5 separate regions of the Homo sapiens genome follow, and all the other regions are reported to be linked to region 1. The links are microRNA targets in miRTarBase. Many come from high-throughput screens and were not tested one by one. Region 1 holds a microRNA gene; each other region holds the end of a gene's coding sequence.
Evidence for each region. The annotated mature microRNA hsa-miR-4725-5p reads AGACCCUGCAGCCUUCCCACC and lies in region 1 at 3,302-3,322, opposite strand. An mRNA with a match to its seed (bases 2 to 7 or 8) in the 3' UTR can be bound and repressed. Matches are read on the target gene's strand: a 7mer-m8 pairs with bases 2 to 8, a 7mer-A1 pairs with bases 2 to 7 and ends in A, and an 8mer does both.

Region 2: the mRNA of MCTS1 is a reported target of hsa-miR-4725-5p. Seed matches in the 3' UTR shown: 7mer-m8 at 4,003-4,009 and 7mer-m8 at 2,801-2,807.
Region 3: the mRNA of NANOS1 is a reported target of hsa-miR-4725-5p. Seed matches in the 3' UTR shown: 7mer-m8 at 4,565-4,571.
Region 4: miRTarBase lists FBXO40 as a target of hsa-miR-4725-5p. Seed matches in the 3' UTR shown: 7mer-A1 at 3,550-3,556.
Region 5: miRTarBase lists FLG2 as a target of hsa-miR-4725-5p. Seed matches in the 3' UTR shown: 7mer-A1 at 4,215-4,221.

The regions. Positions count from the first base shown.
Region 1 is chr17:31,573,498-31,578,602 of GRCh38, reverse strand. MIR4725 (microRNA 4725) reads right to left here and starts at 3,334; the gene lies at 3,245-3,334. It overlaps MIR365BHG (MIR365B and MIR4725 host gene), which reads right to left. Exons shown (of 3, transcript NR_186556.1): 3 at 2,944-3,092. It overlaps MIR365B (microRNA 365b), which reads right to left and starts at 3,192; the gene lies at 3,082-3,192. RefSeq lists an enhancer at 4,618-5,105.
Region 2 is chrX:120,611,853-120,616,957 of GRCh38, reverse strand. MCTS1 (MCTS1 re-initiation and release factor) reads right to left here. Exons shown (of 6, transcript NM_014060.3): 6 at 1-4,775. The coding sequence ends at 4,694. Among named protein-coding and RNA genes, the nearest start is that of MCTS1, 10 kb to the right of the region's middle.
Region 3 is chr10:119,030,168-119,035,272 of GRCh38, reverse strand. NANOS1 (nanos C2HC-type zinc finger 1) reads right to left here. Exons shown (of 1, transcript NM_199461.4): 1 at 1,543-5,105. The coding sequence ends at 4,593. It overlaps EIF3A (eukaryotic translation initiation factor 3 subunit A), which reads left to right. Exons shown (of 22, transcript NM_003750.4): 22 at 1-1,603. Among named protein-coding and RNA genes, the nearest start is that of NANOS1, 3.0 kb to the right of the region's middle. RefSeq lists a silencer at 4,488-4,787.
Region 4 is chr3:121,626,164-121,631,248 of GRCh38, reverse strand. It overlaps FBXO40 (F-box protein 40), which reads right to left. Exons shown (of 4, transcript NM_016298.4): 4 at 954-4,554. The coding sequence ends at 4,339. Among named protein-coding and RNA genes, the nearest start is that of HCLS1, 32 kb to the left of the region's middle. RefSeq lists enhancers at 175-224, 265-414.
Region 5 is chr1:152,345,842-152,350,946 of GRCh38, forward strand. FLG2 (filaggrin 2) reads right to left here. Exons shown (of 3, transcript NM_001014342.3): 3 at 2,894-5,105. The coding sequence ends at 4,769. All of the region lies in intron 7 of CCDST (cervical cancer associated DHX9 suppressive transcript), which reads left to right. Among named protein-coding and RNA genes, the nearest start is that of FLG2, 12 kb to the right of the region's middle.

The DNA of each region.
Region 1 (5,105 bases):
TGGGAGGCGGAGGTTGCAGTGAGCCGAGATCATGCCACTGTGCCACTGTACTCCAACCTGGGTGACAGAGTGAGACTCCATCTCAAAAAAAAAGAAAAAACCAAAAAAGTTGATGTATTATCTTTTGCAAATGTTTTGTGGTAAAGAATGAAGAACTGGCCAGGTGCAGTGGCTCACACCTATAATCCCAACATTTTGGGAGGCTAAGGCAGGAGGATTGCTTGGGCCCAGGAGTTTGAGACCAGCTTGGGCAACATGGCAAAACCCTGTCCCTACAATAAATGCAAAAATTAGCCAGGCATGGTGGTGTGCGCCTGTAGTCCCAGCTACTCGGGAGGCTGAGGTGGGAGGATCGCTTGAGCCCAGGAGGTAGAGGTTGCAGTGAGCCTGGTTCAGGCCACTGCACTCCAGCCTGGGTGGCAGAGTTAAGATTCTATGTCAAGAAGGAAAAAAAAAAGAATGAGGAACACATGTAAGAACAAGGAGGTTCAGGGGAATGAAGGGCAGGAGAAAGGGGCCCCATGGGAGGGGATGGTTGAGGGGAGCAAATGGCAGGGAAGCTGATCGGGGATGAAGGAACCTTTGCAACACCCCTGTCCGTTGGAGGTTGCGAGAATAGCATTTCATGGGAGCCCCACCTATCCCTTACCAAGAAAGGATAAATGCCATCATGTTTAAACTTTACCTTGGAGCTGTCCTTGCCCTGTGCAGAAAAAAGCCAAGGCTCCTGAGCAAACCCAGCTCCTTCAAAACTGTCTCTGGGAGAGCTCATGTGGAGGTAGTCACAGTAGCACCGGCCAGTGCCCACTGGAGCCAGGGCTGGGCTGCAGGGAAGATCGTGGCAGTTGGACTTCTGCAAATGCTGAGCACACGTGGTCATCTCCTCCAGTGACGAGAGCTTTTGAGCTGCACCTAGAGACCCTGGAAATACCTCAAGGGTAAACTTCCCCTGCTGACCCATGAGGGCAGTAAGACATAGAGTGGACCCACTGGGGCATGCAGAGTCCTGCTTGTCACTTTGTCCATCTCCCCACCTGTCCTTCACTGCAAGCCACCAGCCCAGTCTCCCCTGGAGAGCAGGATTCTGTTGCTTCGGGTTTGGTGGACTGGCATTGTTGGGGAAGGCAGGCATATCACAAATTGATTTAACAAAGTATTTCTGGCCAGGCGCAGTGGCTCATGCCTGTAATCCAGCACTTTGGGAGGCCGAGGCAGGTGGATCACCTGAGGTCAGGAGTTTGAGACCCAGCCTGGCCAACATGGTGAAACCTCATCTCTACTGAAAATACAAAAATTAGCCGGGCATGGTGGTGGGTGCCTGTAAATCCCAGCTACTTGGGAGGCTGAGGTGGGAGGATCCCTTGAGTCCTGGAGGTCAAGGCTATAGTGAGCTGTGATGAAGCTACTGCACTCCAGGCTGGGTAACAGAGTGAGACTGTGTCTCAAAAAAATAAAAAATAAAAAAATAGGTCTCAGAAAAATCGGATTCAGCCGAGCGCAGTGGCTCATGCCTGTAATCCCAGCACTTTGGGAGGCCGAGGCAGGTGGATCATGAGGTCAGGTGTTCGAGACCAGCCTGGCCAACACAGTGAAACCCCGTCTCTACTAAAAATACAAAAAATTAGCTGGGCATAGTGGCAGACGCCTGTAATCCCAGCTACTTGGGAGGTTGAGGCAGGAGAATCGTTTGACCTGGGATGTGGAGGTTGCAGTGAGCTGAGATCGCGCCACTGCACTCCAGCCCAGACGACAGTGCAAGACTCCATCTCAAAACAAATAAAAATAATAATAATAATTTAAAAAAAGGTATTTCTGCTTCTCGACAATCCCCCAGGACCTCCAAAAGCCTTGGCTGGTCAAAATAGAGTCATGTGTCACTTAACAACGGGGATCCATCCTGAGAAAGGCATTGTTAGGTGATTTTGTTATTGTGCCAACCTCACAGAGTGTGCTTACATAAACCTAGATGGTGAATAGCCTGCTGCACACCTAGGCTAGGTGGGGGAGCCCATTGCTCCTAGGCTACACATCTGTACAGCACGTTCCTATCCTGAATGCTGTAGACAATTAGAACACAATGGCAAGCGTTTGTGTACCTAACCAGAAAAGGCACAGTAAAAACAGTGTTATAATCTTATGAGACCACTGTCCTACATGCGGTCCCTCGTTGACCAAAACATCGTTAGGCAGTGCATGACTGTATCTGCAGGGTGGGGCTGGATAGGGCAGGGGTAGGGAGACCTGCTGAGAATGGAGGAGATCCATGAAGTGAAATAAGGATGGAGGACTTTCAGTCAAGGAAAAGCAAGCTCCAGGGTCACAGTAGAGGGGGAAAGACCCTCAATTCACTGTTCTATTTTCAAAATGGCTAGTTCACTGGGTCTCAGACAGACAGTGGATTCTGAGGCTCCTTCTATTTTATTTTATTTATTTTTTGAGACAAGGTCTCACTGTGTTGCCCAGGCTGGAGTGCAGTGGTGCAATCTTGGCTCACTGCAACCTGCAACTCCTGGGCTCAAGCAATTCTCATGCCTCAGCCTCCCGAGTAGCTGGGACTACAGGCACACACCACCACACCCGGCTAACTTTTGTATTTTTAGCAGAGATGGGGTTCTGCCATGTTGGCCAGGCTGCCTTCTATTTTAAAATACAATGCAAGTTCCTGCGCAGATAGATGCCTCCTCTACTCCTGCCTCAACTTCTCAGGAAAGGTTGGGGGGCATCTTGTCCAGCCCAACTCTGTTGCCTCTAACATCACTGACCCGGAAGATGACCTTCCTTGGGCACTGCACGTGCAGCTAGGCTCTTCCAGGCCTTCACTGCACACAAACCAGGGAGTTCCTGCACCCTCCTGGGCTCCAACCTGCACAGGAATATCTTGATGTCCAGCCCTCCCGACCCTCAGCCACTCCAATCCTCCACCAGAAGAGAAGATGCTAAAAATGCACGCAAACAAAATTGTTTTAATAATCAGCAAATCCCCATTCACTCTTATTTTGGACGTACATTCCAATCTGACCCCAGGAAGTCCCGGTCCTCCCAGAAGGGCCAGGTGGGTGAGAGGCAGGTTGCTGGCCGCTGCCCGATGCACACTGCAAGAACAATAAGGATTTTTAGGGGCATTATGACTGAGTCAGAAAACACAGCTGCCCCTGAAAGTCCCTCATTTTTCTTGCTGTCCTTGAACACTCTCCAGGTGAGGAAGCAGTCGTCTGCCACGCCCAGATGAGCCGAGGTGAAGCTGGTGTTCCCTCACCCGACACTGACGCCTTCCCCACAGCCCATGGAAAGCTCCCTGGTGGGTGGGAAGGCTGCAGGGTCTCCAGAGAGACACAATTTTCTCCGATGCCGGGCCCAGCTGCGGCCAGCCTCGCCGCCCTCCCAAGGCATACCCAGGAATGACCTGGGTTCCACCTAAAGCCAACTCAGAACCCAGCGCCTTCTGCCTGCAGGAAACTGCAGACCAGCATCCTGGTGGAATCCCAATGTGGAGAGCAGCCCCCAAAACTCGGGAACGTGGCAAGAACTATACTATAGTCTGTAGCCCCTGTGTTCACAGGAGGGGCGTGGACCATCTCAGAGAGACAATGATGGTCTCAGGCCTGGCGTGACACATGAACACAAGACAGCCAGCCTCCAACCTTCTTGTAACCAGGCCTGAGGCCAGGCCTGATTCAGGCAAAGAGAAGAAAACACCAGGAAGTGCCCAGAAGAGCAACCCAGGCCTGAAAACCCGGGAGAAGAGCTGCCCCGACTCTCTCCAGCCCATCTTAAAGAACGGCACACAGACAGGAGATTCCAACAGGAATGGGCACGGGAACTCCGGTTCCGCTTCTCTCCAGCAGTCGCGGCCTTGGTTACTCTGCCTGTAAAATGGGCCTGGAAGGAGCTAAGCTCCCACCACCCTCTCTCCCATTTCAAAGGGAAAGCCAAAGAGGAAATGAGACTTTCAGCTCTGTCACAGAAAGCAAAGGGGCTGGAAGAGGCTGCAACCTGTGAGAAACAGCACGCCCTGGGGTGCTGCTGAATGGATCTCAGGCCCGCCCACCAATTCTCGGCCATATCCCACCCTGCCCTTAGCAAAAGAGCAACAGCTTCACATTGGCCTGAGTGGGAAGGCAGGTCCTCCCAATACCCTTCTATGAAAACGGCCTACAATGGGCAACAAAGACAAGTGTGAAGACCTCTGGAATGTCCTAGGTGGTTTCTGGGTTCAAATCAACAAGCCCACAGGCTCTGCTGGGAAGCACAGGCTGAAAGAAACCAAGGTTGGGTGAAGGAGATGGTGAGACAGTGGCCAAAAAGAAGGGAAGAGACTGGTGGCCAATTTGTTTTTTGTATGGGAGGATAAAAAACAAGAGCTTCCAGAATCAGAGACTCGTAGAGGATTCTCCTTAATGGGACAATCCCTTCTGTCCCGAGGCCCAGGTGAGCCTCCAGGGCAGTAGAGGGTCAACCCCAGCGTCAGGGCATCAGGGCCCAGACCAGGAAGGCCCCTAGGGAATGAGGTCCTGCATGTGCCTCCCACCTGTGGAATGTCACCCAGCAACAGGAAACGTGTCTCCTGAGGCCAGGCCACTTTGCCCAAGGCCCCGGCACAGCTGGAATCTGTCCAGCCTGGCACTGCACCTGCTCTTTGGGGGCCCCACTGTCCATGCAGGAACCTGGCCTGTCAGGACACAGGTTGCCACCGCTGTGGTGAAAACACATCCCCACAAAAGACAGCCAGCTGCTGGCACCACTACCTGCTAACTTGCTGTATGACCTGACCCTGTGTAAATTACTCGGCTTCCCAGCCTCAGCTCTCTTATCTGTAATAGGAATAATAAGCCCACCTGGAAGGGCAATGTAAGGATCGAAAGAAAGCAAAGTGTGTAGCAGGCTCCTAACAAAAGTGGATCCCCTCAGACCCCAAGGGCAGGGGCTGGGCCATAGCGAATTCTTCCCCTCTGGGAAGGGGGCTGGGTCAGGGTGCCAGCCCGTGCCTCGCTGCACCCTGGGCACTGACACTGCATCTTCTCCCCAACACTCCACGCTCCTTCCAGTTCAGACTGTGAGGAAGTGTGCCTGCTATCCCGATTGCCAGCTCCAGCCTCAGCCCTCTC
Region 2 (5,105 bases), not on the chromosome of region 1:
ATTTGAAATATCAGTTTTCACCTGTTAGTATTACTAGCTATGTTTGCTATATTTCACAAATACATTTCTAAAACAATCCATTAATTAGAATTGGACATTAATAGTGAGGCATGTCATTCTCTGTAACAACTAAGATTTTAAGTAGAAATTATTTCACTAATTCATCTTTTATTTCTCAAAGTATTCAAGGCTAAAATTTGGAGTTCTTTAATTTTCATTCTAAGAGGCAAGTATTAATTATACTAATGAGTTCAGATGTTTTTATTTATTTTTCCTCCCAATGACCTATTCTTAATGAACATGGTATTATTAAGAGACATTCCAGTGAATCATCTCCTGTATTTTTTTACATGCATAAATTATATTCCCTAAGGCCAGACTCTTAAACAGACAGATGAACCTAATAGTCTCAACAATGATTTAAAAACTGGCCCTCAATTTTCTTCATTCATTCCTGATCTCGTGGAGTTGTGGTCCTTTACTTGGTTTTAACACAGTATTCAACAAATTGTTGTTATAGTTGATAACATCTACTCATTCTTTTACCTGCCTTAAAAAGTGTAATAAAAGTATTCATACAAAGTATAAAATACATACAAGTATAAAAATGTATAATACATTTAATTTACATGCATCTCTACAATGACAAGTATGATTTCTTTAGAAACTGATGCATACATTTTCACTGTTTTTCTTTCATTATATATCAGTTTTAATGCATACTACTTAGAAATTAGAATCATTTTGAGTTTCTTGAAGAGCCTTGATAATTATAGTCTCAAAATTAAGGAACCTAGACAAACAAAGTTAAAATATTTATGACATTTTGCTTGGGCATACATTCATATTTCCATTAATATATAATTGCTACATTATTAATAAGTGACATATTTATTATAATGAAACACCTCCACGAATTTAGTGAATTGTAATTCTTATCTCTTCCTCTGAAGTATTATACTTAGAAATACGTATCTTCAGTTACTGATTTGGGTACGACAGGGAACCTGGCTGGATATCATTATTATTTGATATATGCCATATAACCTTCTGTTTGGGGAATATAAAATCCCTCAAATTGGAAATGTTCATGACTACCCATGGGATAAATCCAGCTGTTTTTGTTTGGGGTCCAGAGCATAAAAACAGAAAAGGAAAAATGCAGCTTCCCAACAGACCACTACCAAACCACCATAACAGACAGTCTGCTAGAAGAGAACTGATCAGGCCATTATGTCACCGGACAACAGGACAATCATCTGAGTTGGGATGCTGAATCACGGCAACTCCAAGACATCTGGGATTTTTTTTTTACCCTCACATTGGATACAATCTATGGAATATTACTACATTTAGTTCATTTGTAATTTACAATTTTTGATGACTAAAATTGGAAAAGGATTAGTACATTCCTACTGGCTTTACATATTAGTATTGGGCTGTCACCATTACCCAGATTATTTAAAATGTAAATTTTCTTTACTCACTAGATTGGAAGCTCCTTAAGAGCAAGGGCTACTTCTGTATTATTCATCTTCATGCCACGTCACTTAGAACCTAGTAGATACTCAATAAATACCTATTGAGCTGAACTGACCTTGTCTGAGTAAAAGTGAGTCCAATACACAAGTTACTAGATTGTAGGTTGGTTTGACACAAACTTAATTTTGAAACTAAAAATGAACTAAAGACACACTGCCTGAGAGAAGCAGGCTCTCTATCCCTGTATTCCTATTCTCACGAATATAGGTAAACTAAGTTTCCATTAAGCACAGTATCTAAAGATGCTGACACATCTGCTAGTTTAATCTCTTTGAATTGCCTTTCATGTATGACCTAATGTTTAGAAAATGACAAGGATCACACATGTAGAGTGACATCCCTGATTAACAGTGATGAGCAGAGGCCTCAGACCCAGGGGAAGCAGAGAACATACATATTTAGTCCATATCACCAAGGCAACACAGTGTACCTCAGCACAGTAGAAAAACAAGCACAGATGTTGATGTTGAATATTTAAAAAGTGTTCCTTACACCCACTGTAACAGTGGTTAGACACAAAGATGAATTATTTCAAAAACCAAGCTATTAAAAGTTTTTACTTCTCTAATGTATGTATATGTGTGCTTTGTTTTTCATTGCTAATACTCCATAGGCAGTCTTGGTCAAAAAACATTCTCTTAGCAACAAAAATAAAGGTTCAAAGTTTGATTCTGACATAAATGACTTGTATATTCTTTTTAAGAACATAAGGAGCTACAGGCCTCAAATAGGGTGCCTCCTCCCCCAAATAGGGAGACATCTGAATTTGAAGCCAGTAAGTCAGCAAAAAATTAAACTATCTGTTGAAGAAACCCCCCTGGGAGATGACTTACAAATGAGTTCCTGATGAGACTATTTATACTTTCGTGGACCAGGAATAAATAATATGGTAAGCTGCAGAATAAAACTGTCATAACATAAGGAAAACTACATGGAACTTGAAAAGGATATAGGAAATAAAATATCAGGGCACCTCTATGGGCTAGGAAAGAGATGAGATTTTGGCAGAGATAAGCATTCTAATTAATGATGAAGCAGGAAAAATTCTCCAAGTCTTACCTCAGCACAACTGAAATATTACCCCAATTTATCAATCTTCCTTTGCTCATACCTGTGTTTACCAAGTAACTTCCTGTTTCCTAATTGTTTACCATAGGCAGACCTATCACTATGAATTAATACATTTATATTCTAACTGGGGAATCTCCAAGTCTCTCAAGTTTCATCAGTGGGAAATGGTTTCTCAAGCTGAGGGTCAGACCCTGGATCTATGTCCACCTATGTTACATCCTGGGAGACCCAGCTGGAACAGCCAGCCAAATGATCTCTCTCTTTTTGCTATCCACCCTCACCTTTCTCACCAACTTCTAACTGTAACACAGGTCACCACAATCTTGTATATGTCTGTATCCATCTGAAAAATAAAATCACATGTCATATATTGGTAAACAACCAAATGAAGATGGCTAAGACACTAGAATAACAGCAAGGTTATTAGGAAGAAAAATGGTCTTTATCAATAAATAAATCCACAACTGCTCTTTTAACTCCCCAAACAGATTACTGTTCTTACTAAAGCAGGTCCATGTCCCTCATATTCCACTTATAGAAGATATACATTATTTAAGGAGTCTAGTGGGGACCCAAATCCAGATGTTCTGGGCATCTGTTTGGTATGACTTTACTCAAAAGAAGGCACTAAAAAAACTGAACCTGAATCTGATCAATCTTATTTGTTTACAGGATATACAGGAGGCATAAAAACAAGTTAATGACTTCACAGTGATACAATCAACAAAATCCAGAATATGTGTGGAAACTTTAAAGACAAAACAACTAGATTTCTTAAATAATTTAAGGGGGAAAAGAAAAGGTAACTTATAAATTAAACAGACTTCAATAAATAACAACCAAATGCAATGTATGAACCTTGTGTGGTACCTATTTCAAGCAAACCAACAGTTAAAGAGAATTAACAGTCTAGACAGTTGATCATATTAAGAAACAGTTCAACTTTTTAGGTGTGATAATGGTATTGTGGGGTTTTTCTAATTTTTAAAGATACACACTAAAGTAGTTATGACGCCAGGCATGGTGACTCATGCCTATAATCCCAGCACTTTGGGAGGCTGATCACTTGAGGCCAGGAGTTCAAGACCAGCCTGGCCAACTATAAAATATATAAAAATTAGCTGGGCACGGTGGCTCATGCCTGTAATCCCAGCACTTTGGGAGGCAGAGGGGGACGGATCACTTGAGGCCAAGAGTTCAAGACCAGTCTGGCCAACATAGCGAAACCCCATCTCTACCAAAAATACAAAATTAGCCGGGCATGGTGGCACGTGCCTGTAATCCCAGCTACTCAGGAGGCTGAGGCACAAGAATCGCTTGAACCCGGGAGGTGGAGGTTACAGTGAGCCAAGATCGTACCACTGCACTCCAGCCTGGGCAACAGAGCAAGACCCTGTTTCAAAAAAAAAAAAAAAAGAATAAAGTAGTTATGGATGAAATGATAGGATGTCTGGGATTTGCTTCAAAATAATTGGGGGGTGGGGAGAAATAATTGAGGTATAGATGAAATAAGACTGACCATAAACTGAAACTGGGTGATGGATATGGAGAGGTCCATTATACTATTCTCCAGACTTCTTAATATGTTTAGAATTTTCCATTGAAGTTTTTTTTAAAAAAACAATCAACAAAACACACACACACACACACACACACATACACACACACACACACACACACACACGAGAATGAGCACTGCTGGGTCCCCTGGAGTAATAGAATAAAATTCCTAGTCTAGTTTCTAGCCCCATTTAACTAGACAGTTTCTCTAGAGGTCTACCATAAAATGGCAATCCATTGACCAAGTCCTGCTCTTCACTCTTATATCATTAGCCTAAGAAAGGACATTAGTTGTATGAGTTTGCTTACTTACCAGATACCTTTTAATGTCCAAGTTTGCTACCCAATTTTAACTTGAGTTTAAGAAAACTTAAAATAATTTCTGAAGCTAACAGAATTTTAGCATCTGGTGAATTTATTCAGCATAACCACAGGCATTATCTTCATGCTGTCACACACAGACACAAACACAGATACAGCACAATATCCATATTTAGCCCAAGTGCATTCCTTCTGAGGCTCATTTATATGTCTTCATATGCCACAGCCCATCATTTAAATAATGGATATTTTCAATGCCAATTCCTTTGTTGACTTTCTCACTGTAGAAGGAAAAAAAACACATAAACATACTTTTATGCATTTTTATAGTCTTACTCGTGATAAATATAATTCAAAGTATATTGTTATTTTTTAATTATTAAGCCACAAGTAAAGAACTTATTGACATCACAATTACATTGTTGTTTATATTAAACTACATTACTCTGTGGCAGCTCATATCTAAAAGTGATTTTAGTGATCTAACTAGTGGGTCTATAGAACCAGAGTAACAATGTCACAAGACTAGGGGAATATCAAAGTGCTACATTAACCCTGAAACAAAATTAATACCACTAATTTGGTCATCAAATGGGTTCTAAAATTTTTAA
Region 3 (5,105 bases), not on the chromosome of region 1:
ACAATATTTATAAATGTATGGTTTGGAGGAATCGTTTAAATTCTCTTTCCTAATTTTCTTTCTTTTGAAGATAGATTCTTTCAACAAGTAATTTGTAGTAATGACTGTGTTGACTTCAATTTTGGAGCGCAGTAGCTATGTTAAAGATGAACTATTTGGTCTCATTGAAGCCAACACAGAACTTGCTGCTGTGTTTTTTCTTCAGTGATAAATAAAATACTTACAGAATTTGTTTTAGTGTTGATTTGTGGTTATAGTATTTTGTTTATAATGGTAAGTTTGCATATTCAGTTGAGTTTTTTTTACTTGAATTTTTATCAGTGCCATTAAATGTCTGTGTTTAGTATCAATGAAAATGAACCTAAATATAACAAAGAAAGCATATGTGGCTAGGATGTCCCCCTAACATGTCTTCCTTTGTTAATGCAGGAATTCCTTAGTTTCCTTGTAACGCTGTCCTCTGAGTTTGTGTGTGCATGTGCGTGTTTGAAGTACCACCTTGGGTTTTCACCTGAAATTAGAAAAATCGTAGTTAATTTGAGAAAATGTTACAAATTCATCATGGCTGTAGGCACTTATTTCTGTTATTGAGTAGTGGTGAGAATTCCTATTGGTACAGCTGTAGGGCCAGAAGAGGGAGTATTGATGCTTTTTAACTTAACCAGATGCAGCTATTTTTGTTTGATGTTACCAATGATAGAAATCATTTTAAACACCTTAGTATCTGGTATTTCAAATACGTAGAAGTCTTTAAAGGTCTTTCGTGGGGAGAAGGACTTTTCTTTCATAACAAGAGAATTTCAGATCAGTGATTACAAGTGGGGCAGTAACTTGCTAAGAGTTTGCTTCCTGGAGAGTAGATCTGTATGTGTGACATCACAGGTAAGCCCCAAGAATTTATTTAATCAGATTTGTTCAGACGAGTTACTGCTGCCTACGTTAGAGTTAGATTTCAAGGCGAGTCAGCAAACCCATCCTTTCTGCTCAGTCTCCCGTACTGTTCTCCCAAGTTCTTTGTTCTGGGAGTCAGAACCCAAGTGCAAGAGGAGGGCAGAAGAGTCTGATGCTGTTACTTTGCGATCCTGCTCTTGGTTTCCACTGTCCAGGCCATACAACTCTGTCTACTCCCATTAGTATTTACCAACAGGTGTTAAAGGAAAGCTGAACAAGCAGCCTACTCACCGATCTGCTAGGTGGTCTTCCATGTTCATGGTGGCTTCTGCAGTTTCATTGAGAGTAACATTGCTGTTAATACAGATAGATCCAGTAGTAGAGACATCATCGGTCCAAAAGACTTTGCATCTCATTAGTTGTCCATAGTGACTACCAGGAGGTGGCTGGCATCTATAACGTGTGGGACGTTTTTATGTAAAGAACTGCCTGTGTTTTTTTTTTTTTTTAACCAAAGACACTGACCATAGATTGACTTATACTTTTATAAGTCTAATTGAAATACTTGGGGTACTATGAAAGGACTGTTCCTTGAGTGGCTACGATTAGAAAATCAGGACTAACAAACTTTTCTTTGTCTGGAAGCATATATATTTGTGATATAATTTTAATATGTATAATTTTGGTTTAATAAATCAAATCTATGACAAAAGTTGTTCTCATCAAAGCTAATAATTCTGCAACTTCCAAAAAGGACTTTGTAGGAAAATTAAAATACAAAGAAAAATAAAAGCCACTAGAAATTTTAAGTCTGTACAGAAAAGAACAGGTTAAGACAATCTGTACCTCTACAGTTGGAGAAGCCCTTTTGACTCTTCCCTGTATTGTTTTGCTACTAGGCAAGTATGCAGCATGTTCTTATGAAGATAATTTTGTCATACTTTGTATATTTCTTAAACTTTGAAAAATTGGGTTTCTCTAAATGTAATTTTGCAAAATGTTTAAAGTTCCACATTGAGTTCCAAGGATTTTTAAATGAATGTGTTTACATATACTTTTCATAAGAGAACCCTAGAAAATTAACTATAGTAATACTCTGCGTTTTAACTCCCAGTATTCATTGTCAGCTGGAAAACCTAGGCAAATTTGGCACAGGGGCTGAACATGGGGTACTTTTTTTCTTTTTTGGAGACAGAGTCGCTCTGTTGCTCAGGCTGGAGTGCAGTGGCGTGATCTGGGCTCACTGCAACCTCCGCCTCCTGGTTTCAAGCAATTCTCCTGCCTCAGCCTCCTGAGGAGCTGGGATTACAGGCGCCCACCACACCACCCGGCTAATTTTTGTATTTTTAGTAGAGACGGGGCTTCGCCATGTTGGCCAGGCTGGTCTCCTGACCTTGTGATCCACCCCCGCCTCGCCTCCCAAAGTGCTGGGATTACAGGCATGAGCCACCACACCCGGCCTGAAAATGGGGTACTTTAAAAATAGATGAATAGTGGCTGCCTGAGTAGTGGAGAGGGTCTTCTGGATTCCTTTTCCAATACTCTCCTGCCCTCAAGAAGCTCCAGCTCAATATGTTCTTAGTTCTGGTAAAATAGCAATGTCAGAATATCAAATTAACATTAGGCACATCTCATCACAGTGACTCCCATATATTGAGGCTATGCCAAAGCCCCATGCTCAAGACCTTTGGAAACCGTCTGTAATTTGACTCTGAAAATACAAAGTAGCTAAATTGATCTTGCCACCTGGCTAGCCCTTTTGGCCTAGAGAATGCGCTGATCTGTTCATAGTGGTCCTTTTGAAAAGGCAGAACACGAGCAGTGAGAGAGGTAAGAGGATTCATGTTGACCTTAGAAACTTCACCCAGAAGGTGAAGCTCATTTAAACTGGTAGATTTTCTATAGCAAAAGAAAGGAGAACAAGTAATTACATGGTTTCATTAAGCTACTTAATTTAGGCCCAGTCAGATCTGCAGTTCTCTCTGGTCTGGGGTTAAGACTAGCAGCGTTGGATTATTTGTCTTTCCTGGCTAAGAAACATTGTGCTTTCCTCCTGCCCCCCAAGTTCTTGAAATGCACCTTTTCTTTCACCAAAAAGACAGCTATCGGGTATTTACCCCATCCTCTAACACACCTTCAAATGAAGGTTCCTGATTGAGTCAATTTGCTGTGGATGAAGTTAGCTGTTTAATGCGAAAGCAGTCTAACTTCTAGTAGCCTAGCTAAATCCTACTGGGAGCCTTATACACGTAGACTAAACTCTTGCTGGTATCTTCAGATAGTAATGCATTTGTGTATTTCAGATGAGTTCATCTTAATTCACTTCCATTTTTTGCCTTCTATTGCCTTGCTTGGCAGGTAGCTGCATTCCATAGTGTGGCATTCAGTATGGTGGATTTAAAAGTGAGGGTGGGAGGGTAAAGTAGGGGTTAGGAACTTTTGCCCAAGGATCAGGTTTAGTCTTGCTTATGGGTAAACTGGTGGGGTTCCGGAAACCGACATGGGTCTTCCAGTAGGAGTGGGAACACATGAAGGACCCCCAACAATTCCTTTAATTAGTGCTTATTCTAGTTTGAGCACTGCCTGTATTAAAGTCAGACGCAGCCCACGGTGGAACCTTCTTGAATACGAGTTAATACACGAATAGCTCAGAGCTAGAGATCCATCTTCTATTTGTTTGACAGGCAACAGCTGGAATGGGCTTTCCTCCACTAGGAACCCTGAAATTGAGTAATCTAGGGTGAATTAATACTGCTGTCTTCCCTTCCTCCCTTTGATCTTAATATCATAAACGTTTTTAAAGAACTGGAAGAGGGTGAGTGTGTAGAGAAAATGCCAAGTAGGAAAGTTACAGGTGAGATTAATGAATTCATACTGTTACTGTATAAATACACAATTTTTTTAAACAGCACCATTTCCAAGTTATACACAATATGATTATGACTTGGCACAACTTTTAAAGGTGGAAAAGGCTAGTTGCTAGTTCAGTAATAAAATACCTGGTACATAGAACGATAAGGAGCTGTATTCTACCTGCTACACATTGTGCATTTTACACCTCCAGCTAGGACAGAAACAAGCCACAAGCGGGGAATACCCGCCCAAATTAATACTGGAAAGTTTACAAAACCTTCACTTCTCATAAGGGTGATGCTACCAGCGGCTTGCTTCACCTGGAATTAGAGTAACTGATTTTTAAAGACAACTGAGAATATTAACTCGCTTCAAACAATAAAATAGTCATTTTGCCGACATTTCATAAAATCGCCAGTTTTAAGCTCAGTTCAGAGGCTTTTAAAAAAATATTCTAGACCTAGTAAAGTGCCTCCATTCATAAAATGAAACATCCAAGATTGAGACAATTTCATACTGATGCGCATCTAAAATAGGTCGACGTATACAGTAAATAAACAGCGCCTCTAAGTTGCCATATTTCAGTTAGTGGAATACACACCCAGCCTTCGCCGTTCTGGATGTGCAAACTAGAAACTGAAGACAAATGGGGATTTCAGCGTCTAGTCCCAATCGTTCAGCACGGAAGTACTCCACACGGTCGGCTGCTTTTCAAAAACCACCAGGACGACGTCCCATGTCGAGCCGACCGCTGAGCCGCACGCCTCCCCACGGCGGGGGCGAGATGGTGCGCAGACCTAGCGGTGCGAGGGGCGGCGGCGACCCTGGGCGGCCGGGAGCCCGGGCCTTCAGCGCAGCTTCTTGCCAGGCGGGCCGTCCCTGGCGCTGCGGGGCGGCGGGCGGGCGGGCGGCGGCGGCACTTTGGAGAGCGGGCAGTACTTGATGGTGTGCGCGTTGTCGCCGCTGGCGCCGCACAGGGGACACGTGTAGCGGCGCAGCACGGGACACAGCACTCGCCCGTCGGGGCCCTTGAGGATATGGGTGGTGTAGAGCGCCATCGCCTCCTTGTTGTTCCGGCAGAACACGCACACCTGCAGCTCGGGCTTCAGCAGCCGGGCGGCCGCCGCCCCGGAGGCCGCGTGCAGCCGGGGCTCGGCCGCCCACGCCGGGGCCCGCTCCTCGCGCGGCGTCGCCTCGCTGGTGGTGGTGGCGGCGGCGGCGGCGGCGGGCGCGCAGCCCAGCAGCACGGCGGCGGCACGACCCGCGAACGGGCTCAGCTCGGCGAAGCGCTCCTCCAGCAGCCCGGCCTCGGCGGGGCCCGCGCACAGCTCCAGCGCGCGCAATTCCAGCGCGCTCCCCAG
Region 4 (5,085 bases), not on the chromosome of region 1:
GGCTGAACTTTTTTTTTTTTTGAGAAGGAGTTTTGCTCTGTCACCCAGGCTGGGGTGCCGCAGTGTGATCTCAGCTCACTGCAGCCTCCACTTCCTGGGTTCAAGAGATTCTCCTGCCTCAGCCTCCCGAGTACCTGCAACTACAGGCGTGCACCACCATGCCCGGCTAATTTTTGTATTTTTAGTAGAGATGGGGTTTCCCCATGTTGGCCAGGCTGATCTTGAACTCCTGACCTCAGATGATCGCCCCCCGCTTAGCCTCCCAAAGTGCTGGGATGACAGGCATAAGCCACTGCACCTGGCCTCCTTAGGCTGCATTTTAAACCCAGTCCAAAACAGATCAGCCTGAGCAATGGCTGGGCATGGTATTGTGGGCCTATAGCACCAGCTACTCAGTAGTCTGAGGTGAGAGAATCACCTGAGCCTGGGAAGTCAAAGTAAAGGCTTCAGTGAGCTGTGATCACACCACTGCACTCCAGCCTGGGCGACAGAGTGAGAAGCTGTCTCAAAAAAAAAAAAAAAAAAGAAGAAAGAAAGAAAAGATGGAGAAGGCACTGGGATCAAGGAGGAGCTAGAATGGTTGCTAAGACCCACAGTTAGTTGCTCCAGGGCTTCATAGAGTTGGTGAGCTGCCCAGCAGGGTGTCCAAGGGAGAGAATTCAGCCATGGGTTCATAGTTTCTGTTTCTGGTTGGGCCAGTAAAGCCCCTTTGTCATTCCTCTGTTCTGCTTATCACTAGAGACAGAAACTAAAAACCATGGCTTCAGGCTGCTAAAAGCCTAAAACAAAACAAAACAGAACAACAACACAATAAGGCAGGTTGGACAAGTTTGGTCTCAGGCTTGTGCTCTGGTCTTTCTTCATGATACACACTTGGTTTCAGCGACAACTTCTATGCCTGTGAATCACACATCTGTCTCTAGACCTAACTTATAAGATTCACCCAATTAGCCTTTCAGAGTGCAAAGCAGCTTTTATTTCCTCTTCTAGAGATGTTGAGGTTTCTAGTATACAGAGGTCAGTCACCACAGATATACTCAATCTCATTCTTCATTTCAGTTTGATTTGACATCACACATAAATCAGACTTTTATAGTGATTTTCGTGACGTATCTTCAAGTTCCACCTTGCTTTTCACTTTTTCCTTTGTTGTGAGATAGAAACTTCTTTTCCAGACCCTTATGCTACTAAGGCAGTAAGGTCCTCTCTGGCCCAGTTCTACAGACCTCAGCCTCCATATTCGGCTGATCTCTACTCTGGACTGCCTTTCTTGGTGATGATACTCACCAAGGGCTCTGCCCATAGACATCCTCCCTCCCTGTGTACACAGTCCGTCTTTGCTCCCCTCAGCTGTTTCTAAATCTGAAGCCACTTCTAGCTGTCTTGCCTCTGTCAGGTAACACTCGCTGTTCATGCTGTTCACTCCAGCTTCCTCTCACAAATCATTTCTGTCTAATCCATAGTCTCTCTGAAAGGCTTTGGTACCGCTGCCCTCTCACTATGAAGTGTGCTTGTCTTATTGAAGCTCGTGCTTCAGTACGGCTCTGAAGGCAGCAACTGGAGGGGGAGAGTGCGGCTGGAAGTGCACAACCCACAAAGCAGTTGTGGGCAGTGCCACTCTCCTGAACCAAGGCTTCCCCAGCTCACCCAGTTTGGGAAGGGAAAGCCTTCTGCCCTCTTCCTTTCTCTATGTAGCACCTTATTTCTCCTCCATCTGTCGATAGCCCCTGATTTTCATCTCCATTGGTCTATAGTTTCCCTTTCTATTTCTATTAAAATCACAAACCCAGAGTGGACTTTAGGAGCTTTTATCCTCCATGTAGGAAGGACTAGATTCAAAACACGTCGAACTACCACCTGGACAACTCTCTTCCTTCCTTCCCACTGCAGTGTTAGCTTCTTTCCAGTTACTCATCTTCACAGAATAAAACCTTAGGTCACACCCTAGTCATATTTTTAGAAAATGGTGCCTTATATACAAATATGAAATACAAACCAAAGGATGGGATTAGGAAAAATAGAGTGACATTACCAAATAGTACCGAGTGGCACATTACGATGAAAAGATGAGCATGTTTCTGGTCTGGGACTTGCTCTACTGCCTTCTAGACTCTTTTCAGAGGTTTCACCTACTTCATCTACACCAGCTCTGAGCCATGTTTAGAGAGAACCCAGGAAATAAAAGCACCCAGATTGACTAGATTGTTTCTTTTGTTGGCTAAATTCTTTATCCTCTGCTTCCCTACAATGCCTGTCCTTTTCTTTTCCGATTTCCCACTTGCTTGAGGACTGCTAGGACTGCTGGGAAAATGACACCAATTACAGTGAGAGGAATATAAACACAAGGCTAATAACTCAACGCTCCTGGCTTCAGGTATAACCAAAGAGAGCTGAAAGGATACATTCTTGGGGGTGGCTGAAGGACATGAAGCCATACCAAACGAATCATTTCCTTCTGGTTCCCAACTTAAAATCACCACATGTCTAAAACCTATTTCATAAATAAAGAGCTGCATTAAATCATAACTATTGTGGATAGCTATGTGCGATAAGATTTTGCTGTACTAAAAAATAAGCATATCCTAACTTATTGTCACTAGTATGACATCCTTTAGGGATTTTCAACGGGGAGCCATTTTGCTCCCCAATATTTAGCAATGTCTGGTGACATTTTTGATTGTTGCCACTGTGGGGGTGCTACTGACATTTAATGGATAGGCCAAGGATGCTGCCAAGTATCCTGTAGTACACAGAACAGTCCCTTGCAACAAAGAATTATCCAGTTCAGGCAGGGCGCAGTGGCTCACACCTGTAAACCCAGCACTTTGGAAGGCCAAGGCGGGCGAGTCACCTGAGGTCGGGAGTTTGAGACCAGCCTGAACAACATGGAGAAAGCCCGTCTCTACTAAAAATACAAAATTAGCCAGGCGAGTAATCCCAGCTACTCGGGAGGCTGAGGCAGGAGAATCGCTTGAACCCAGGAGGCGGAGGTTGCGGTGAGCCGAGATCATGTCATTGCGCTCCAGCCTGGGCAACAAGAGTGAACTCCATCCCCTCCCCACCTAGAAAAAAAAAAAAAGAATTATCCATTTAAAAATGTCAATAGTTCCAAGGCTAAGAAGCCCTGCTTTAGGGGATGCCAGTTTCTACTGTGTCTTTTTTTCTTTTACTTTTGTTCTTATGAATATTCACTGTTTGTTACCAAAAACAGCAGTATCATCCATTTTTGTCAGACTGAAAGCATGACCAGAAATATGGATGGGTAGGAGCAATTTCAGGGAGCCGTTATGTTCACATGTCTTCCTCTCCAAGACCCCAATGGGGTACCCAAGTGCTGTCTAGGAGCTGGTGACTGGCGCCATAGGAACTGCAGTGGGCCTTGTCTGGACTTTGCCAAAGGTGTGATCTCCCTGGGCTGCCCTGTGCATTCTGGCATGACGCTGAGGTTGGCATTAGTGTATTGAGGTCATTTCAGATAGCACAGGGTGGCCCAGGGCCATGGCTATGTTCTGCCTAACTCAGAACATAATTTTCAGAAGAAAAAAATCTTGACCCTTAAGTCATTATTAAAATGTTACAAAGTAAGTTGGTGACTTTTTGTCCTAATGTTCTCCATAAATATGGTGTCTCCTTTGGACTCCCGATTTATCAAGGCTTTCCTGCTGTATGTTGCCAAGATTCTAGCAACAGACTCTGTGATCCCATTTCTGCCCCTCATGTTTTGGCCTGTGGTGTCTTCAAGGCTGCCATGCTCAGCCAGGGGCTCTCCTATGTCAGGCTGTGTTAGGACTACCCTGGCCTAGAGGCAGTAGAATAACCAAAATGAGCCCTGGACTTGACCGTCAAAACAGACCCAGCTCCAGAGCCTCCAGCTTTGTTCCCTTCACCCTGCGTTCCCTGGGGAGTCCCATCCTGCATTTCCTGTCCCATAAATTTGAAAGTGCTTTGTGAACTAAAAAGCCCATGTAAAAGCACAGGCCTGTACTGGTTATGGAATTTCGTGCTCTCTCATCACTTAAGAAATTGGGCCCATCTTCCAAATGGCCTCAAATTACTTATTTTCTTCTCAGACCAATCTATTTTAGAAAGAAAGAAAAAAGAAAAGAAAAGAAAAGAAAAAAGGAAACAAGTCATCAATGTGGCACTATGGTACAAGACATGGCTTAGGAAATTCTTAGGCCTCGTGTTGAGGTTTCGAAGGACATTGCGTGTTCCAATACACCCCGATAAGCAAATAGGCAGTTTACAGAAGGGAGTCCTCAAAACCACACACTCTGTCCTACTTCAGGAACTCCGAGAAGAAATCCAAGAAGGGTGCATCGAGTGGCATCTGAATTTTTAGGAGACGTATCTTCCTCGTGGTCTGATTCTAAAGGTGGAGACTAAGCTCTCTCGGGCCTGCTCACGGGGCTGACACATGCTAGTCAAAAGAATCGGGTCAGTTTTGTGCTCTACAATGTTGAAAGGACAGGACTTCAGGTGCTCAGACATGGAGGTGACTTCATTAAACTCCCAGCTCTTGATTTTGGAGAAGAGGCTGCTGAACTGCCAGATCTGTTGAGAAAGATAGAAGTTCAAAGGTGAATATAGGGGTGTTACCCTCTGGCTGGCTTTATTTGGGCACTATAAGGAAATATCCTCCTGTTCTTCATATTCTTAGACTCCAGAGTGTTTAGTGGCTCCTGCAGACATTTGGTAGCCCCTCCTCCAGCATCCAATTCCTAGTTCCCCCTGCCAACCAATAATCTTCCCAACCAGCCCTGTAGTTGTGAGAATCACTAACACCAATCAGCATATTGACACACACTCTCCCTTGCTCCTCCACCAGCAAGTGATTAATTTTAAAGTAGATGCACAGTTCAAATCAGAACAATTAGTACCAGTGCAACTCTTATTCCAGAACTTTTGTTGGAGATACCAAAAAGCAGATTCTCTTTTTCTTTCTCTACTTGAACTGCAAAGCTGAAGTCCTAGGAGGTGCCAGCAATCACCAGAGACCACCGAGTGAGCACTATCTTACAATGTAGCCATTATTGAGGAAGTAGAGGTAAAAAATAGAAAGAAGAGATGTCATTTGGGGGCATT
Region 5 (5,105 bases), not on the chromosome of region 1:
CTTTAATTCTAGAGAAAGTGGTAAAGCCAGAAACACATCTAAGTGATTTGGAACCAGAGGCTGTTCCTCCATTTCATCCTTTTCCTAATTACTGCACTTTATTTGTAGAAAGTAAGACAACATAAGATTTTTATTAATTGTACATTGTGGGGAAATGAAAAGAATAATATGAGACAACTTAACATATCTAAACAATCTTTAGAAAATGAACATGTTTTTCCTTGCAAATTTCATACTTCTTTGTGTTAGATGGCTTTATAATGCAAAAAATATACTTGTGAACTTCTACTGGTAATTCTATGCACTTTTAAGGAGAGTTTCACTCACTTTCACTTACCATGTTTTCCAAAGATTCAGTAAGATGTTGCTTAAAACCAGTTTCAAAGCCTGAGTTAGTGGCCTTTTAATTGTGTCAAATCATTATTAGAGAGGAAGCTTCTGTCTGCTCGCTTGATTAATTTCCAACCAAATCCAGAATTGCCTCAATCTTTACTTTTTAAAGATTTTCTACTTTTTCTTGCTCATTTCCCCACAGTTTACATACCCACCTTTGATTGTGTTAGAGTGCTCCACAAAGGTTGTACTCAGCATGTAGTATTAGAAAGTCTTCTCTGGTTATCAAGGACTCTTGGAACACAGGGACTATGTATTACACTCTAACAGAACAGCAAGTGCATGCAGTGTGTCTGCTACAAACTGACCTTCAATTTCCCTCATCCAAAGGTCATCTTTATCTAGAAAGTTTGTAAGAAGAGGAATTTTATCTTTCTTTCCTCCCATTTTGGCCACCCAGAGTTCCTCTTCAGTGCCATGTACTCTCCATGACAGTCTCAGCCATGGTTTGACATCACTGGGTATTTCTTGGCACAGAAATGCTTTACCTACAGGTTGCTAGCACACAGATGGTAGTAGAGGGGAAATATCTAACGGTATGTACCTATGACACTTCTCTTTCTAGCATCTAAGAAATTCAACTGTTCACAGAGGTTTCACATGGGGGCACCCCAGTTTTGAACTTTTTCTTTGTAGACCATACCTGATGTCTCATTTTTATCTTTCCTTTTATCTTAGAAGGGAGATGTGTAACTCTTTTTGAGTTATTTAATACTTCTGGTGTAATTTATAAGGAACAATTGCCCCCTATTTGATTAAAACATATTATTGAGAGTTTTAGCAATGTGGAATATATTACATTTAAATTTCAAATGGGTGTGGTTAAGGGATTATGGGGGTCATTTATGTACATAACCTATATATTTATATATACACATATACATATTTACACACACATACAATAAAGGCACATTAACGTTTATTCAGGATACCAGTGAAACTTTAGACATTTGTAAACGTATACTTAGAGAATAAAGCCTTTCTTTCTTGTAAATGCTTTAGACAGTGATTAGATTGAGGGAAAGATCAGATGTTGAGTTTTACCTTCTTTGGACTCATCATTAGTATCTGAGTGTTTCACCGCCGTCTAGCGGTAGAATATGGAATTACAGATGTATGGAATGAGTGCAGACGCCCTGACACGAGAGAGAGCTTTGGCTTGAGAATCAGAAACCTATACCTTGGTCATAGCAGCACTTCCAATTAGCAAGTTAATCTCTTCTATTGTAAATAAAGTAAATCCATAGATTTACTTTACTGCCATCTAGCTGTGCAGAGGTAGGATAAAAATCTATGGATTTCTCTTTTTATTATAGGTATAGACTTACTTTATCTATAATAGAAAGAGATTAAATATCAAATTTAAATTTCTAATTGTTCTTTGATAATTAGTATTTATATTCAGTGAATAAATGGTGATAGATAGATTGGTATGAATTGGTTACTAGCGTTAACTCCTATATACACAGTAATTTTGCTGAGTATCATTAATAGTATAACAGTAGCTTTTTCACTAGCAAACTAACAGACTAGTGTTATGTTGATTACATAGTACGATTTAAAGTTCATAAAGTACAAGTCCTTCTTAATATTACAATTTAAAAACTAGATTAGATAGATATATTCTGAGTCTAATCAGAAGAATGAGCCTGTTTGTTGTTGTTGTTGTTTTCATGTAACTTCTGCTTCTAATAGGGACTTGTGATTTTGAACACTCACTGATGAATTTCAGTTTAGTTTGAATTCCAAAAGTGAAGGTGGAGGAAAAGTAGCTTGATTTTTGAGTGAAAAGAGGATAAATTTGGATAGCACCAAATTTAATGGTGAGAATTATCACTCTTTTAATTAAATGCGGTGTGCTTGGCTTTTTTATTTTAACTTCCAAATTAAGGAAGTAATCTTTAAAGTTCTTACTAGTTCTGACAGTCTGCACATTTTCTTTGGGTTTTATAGTAGTAAACTTTCTACTGAGGATAGTGCATTTTGTACATAATTCTTCTACTCATCATTACTTCTCTCACTATTCATAATAAATTCATGTATTTTCTCCTTATAGGCAGGAATAATATATTTTTAACTGTTTTTCTTCTACTGGAAACCTCTGGACCCAATTAGCTTCTATTGATAGTGATTCTTCCATTAATATCTTTGACAGAGAAAATCCATGGTGTATAATTCTTATTTCCAGAGCTTGGGTTGTCTTAGAAAGTAGCTTCTTGGGATTATGTTTGATAATAATTGCTGTGATGATCATGATTAACCAGAACATCTGAGGTCAACTCATCAGTATAAAGCCTTTCTGTAAATGCTTTACAGAAGCATTGGACAGCGATTAGATTGAGGAAAAGATCAGATATGGTTGAGTTTTGTCTTCTTTGGAGTCCTTATTATTAGTACCTGAGTGCTTCACTGCCATCTAGCTGTGTGGAGGTGGAAGAAAACTGCATCTGATCCCATGGCAGGAAACTATGTGTTTGTGGAGATGAAAGAGAAGAGAAACTATAACTTGATGAAATGTTTATTGCCAATTTTTATGAAGTACAATTTTCTGGATCCTATATCCAGAAGGCCATGACAATAAATTTAAATATAATTGTACAGAATTCCAGTAGTGACACAAAAAGATGCAAATATTCTGAATATTCATGTGGGAAACTATGACAACATTCTTTGTTCAGGATGGGATGTGTTATAATGTTTCTAGAGACGTTTTGGCTCCTAAACCACGTCATTTAGCTCCTTGGATAGGTTTGTCAATAATTAATTAAAACAAAATCTGGAAAATCCAAATTTTGAAATTCGGAAATTTTTTTAAAACCTAATTTTATTCCCAACCACACAAATCTCTCTTTATTATATAGTTCTGAATATAGCCCCAAATGGTGTTTATCTTTTTCTTCCATTCACTATTTTCTTTCTTTCTTTTTTTCAAGGTGGAGTCTTGCTCAGTCACCCAGGCTGGAGTGCAGTGGTGCGATCTCGGCTCACTGCAACCTCTGCCTCCCGGGTTCAACCAATTCTCCTGCCTCAGCCTCCTGAGTAGCTAGGATTACAGGTGCCCGCTACTGCACCCAGCTAATTTTTGTATTTTTAGTAGAGACGGGATTTCACTATGTTGGCCAGGCTGGTCTCGAACTCCTGACTTCGTGATCCACCCATCTTGGCCTCCCAAAGTGCTGGGATTACAGGCGTGAGCCACCGCGCCCGGCCTCATTCACTATTTTCTAACCAAGGAGTTCAATGAATGTGGAGCCTTACAAAAACACCTGGCACCAAACAAAAGTAATATAGTACAGAACTATAGTTAAAATGAAAGAACAGACATATACCCTTACTACCAAAAGAGGAGATCATGTTAAATACCTTAATTTCATGTATGTGTCTCATTTCTTCTCTGGGTTAGTTCTTATCTTGGGCTAGTTTATGTTGGCTTCTTATTCAAAGTAATAACTCCTTTGTTCTTGGACATATTCATAGAGTGGGGTGTTGCTATCTAAGCAGAAGGAACCAGAGCCTGTTCTTTCCTTTGTATGGTAACCGCTGGCCTCAGAGCCTCTTTGTTTTTTGCCCACATCCTCACCGTATATTCTGATACCTCCTGACAGACTTGACTCTGACTCTTGCCTTTGTCTCCCCCACTGCATATGGTTGCACTGCTTGATGAATATCTATACCTATACTCTTCAATTCCTGCAGGGTCTTGGCTGTCAAGAAAGTGACTGAAAATGTATCTTTGACTTTTGCTGTCATTTGACTACTCATAACTATCATTTGATTGGCCATGGCTGTATACTTGTCTTTCATTGGTACTGAATCCAGACTGACCCTAGGCATCTCTTGATGGCCCATGACTTAATACCTATCTGGCAAAACCTGTGCTGGATCTTACCTGCCCATGAAAAGTTGTATCTCCGAAATGTTGCTGGCTAGATCCATGTATACCTATTGTATTGAACTCTAACTTCCCATGCCTAGATCCTAATTGCTCATGAGTGTCTTTCTCCCAATCTTCTGAATGCTTTTTGTTATCAGTATGGGATTCCTGTTTTCTGATTGAACTAGATTTTGAATGGCCATGAACTGATATGGATTGTCCATGGCCAAATCCAAGGTGGTCATTTGACTGGCTATGTGTACATCCCTCCCTTCTGGCTGTGTTATATCCAGGTTGAACATAGGTGTTGTTTGACTGTTTATGAGTTACTATAGAATGTCCATGACTAGATTCCTGACTTCTTATAATAATAGGTCGAGACTGATACTGAGAATCAACTGAATGTTCATAACTTACCATTGACTGTTCATGATTTAAACTGTGTCTTCCTGTTCTTTTAGTTGCTTTGGATACTATAAGGTCAGAACTAGAAAATAACTGTCAATGTCTAGACAGTTGCTTGTTTGCAGTGCTGTCTGTTGACCATGAAAGGTGAGAATTACTGATGCTTTTTCTGCTGCCACCAGAAGGCCCATACCCAGTGTGCCCATAGTCATATTCTGCAGGTCCATAGCTGCCATGTTTCCAAACCTGACTTGATCCATGCCTTTGCCTTTCACTACTATGTGACTGAAAATGACTTGCTCTACTAGATCTGGAACCTGTCTGTGTGGATTGTCCATAACCAGAATGGCCATGTCTAGTGGTATCTCCTGTCTGTCCATGAGTAGTTTCCAGTCTCCCATGAACTGTGGATCCTGGCTGTCTTTGTTGAGAT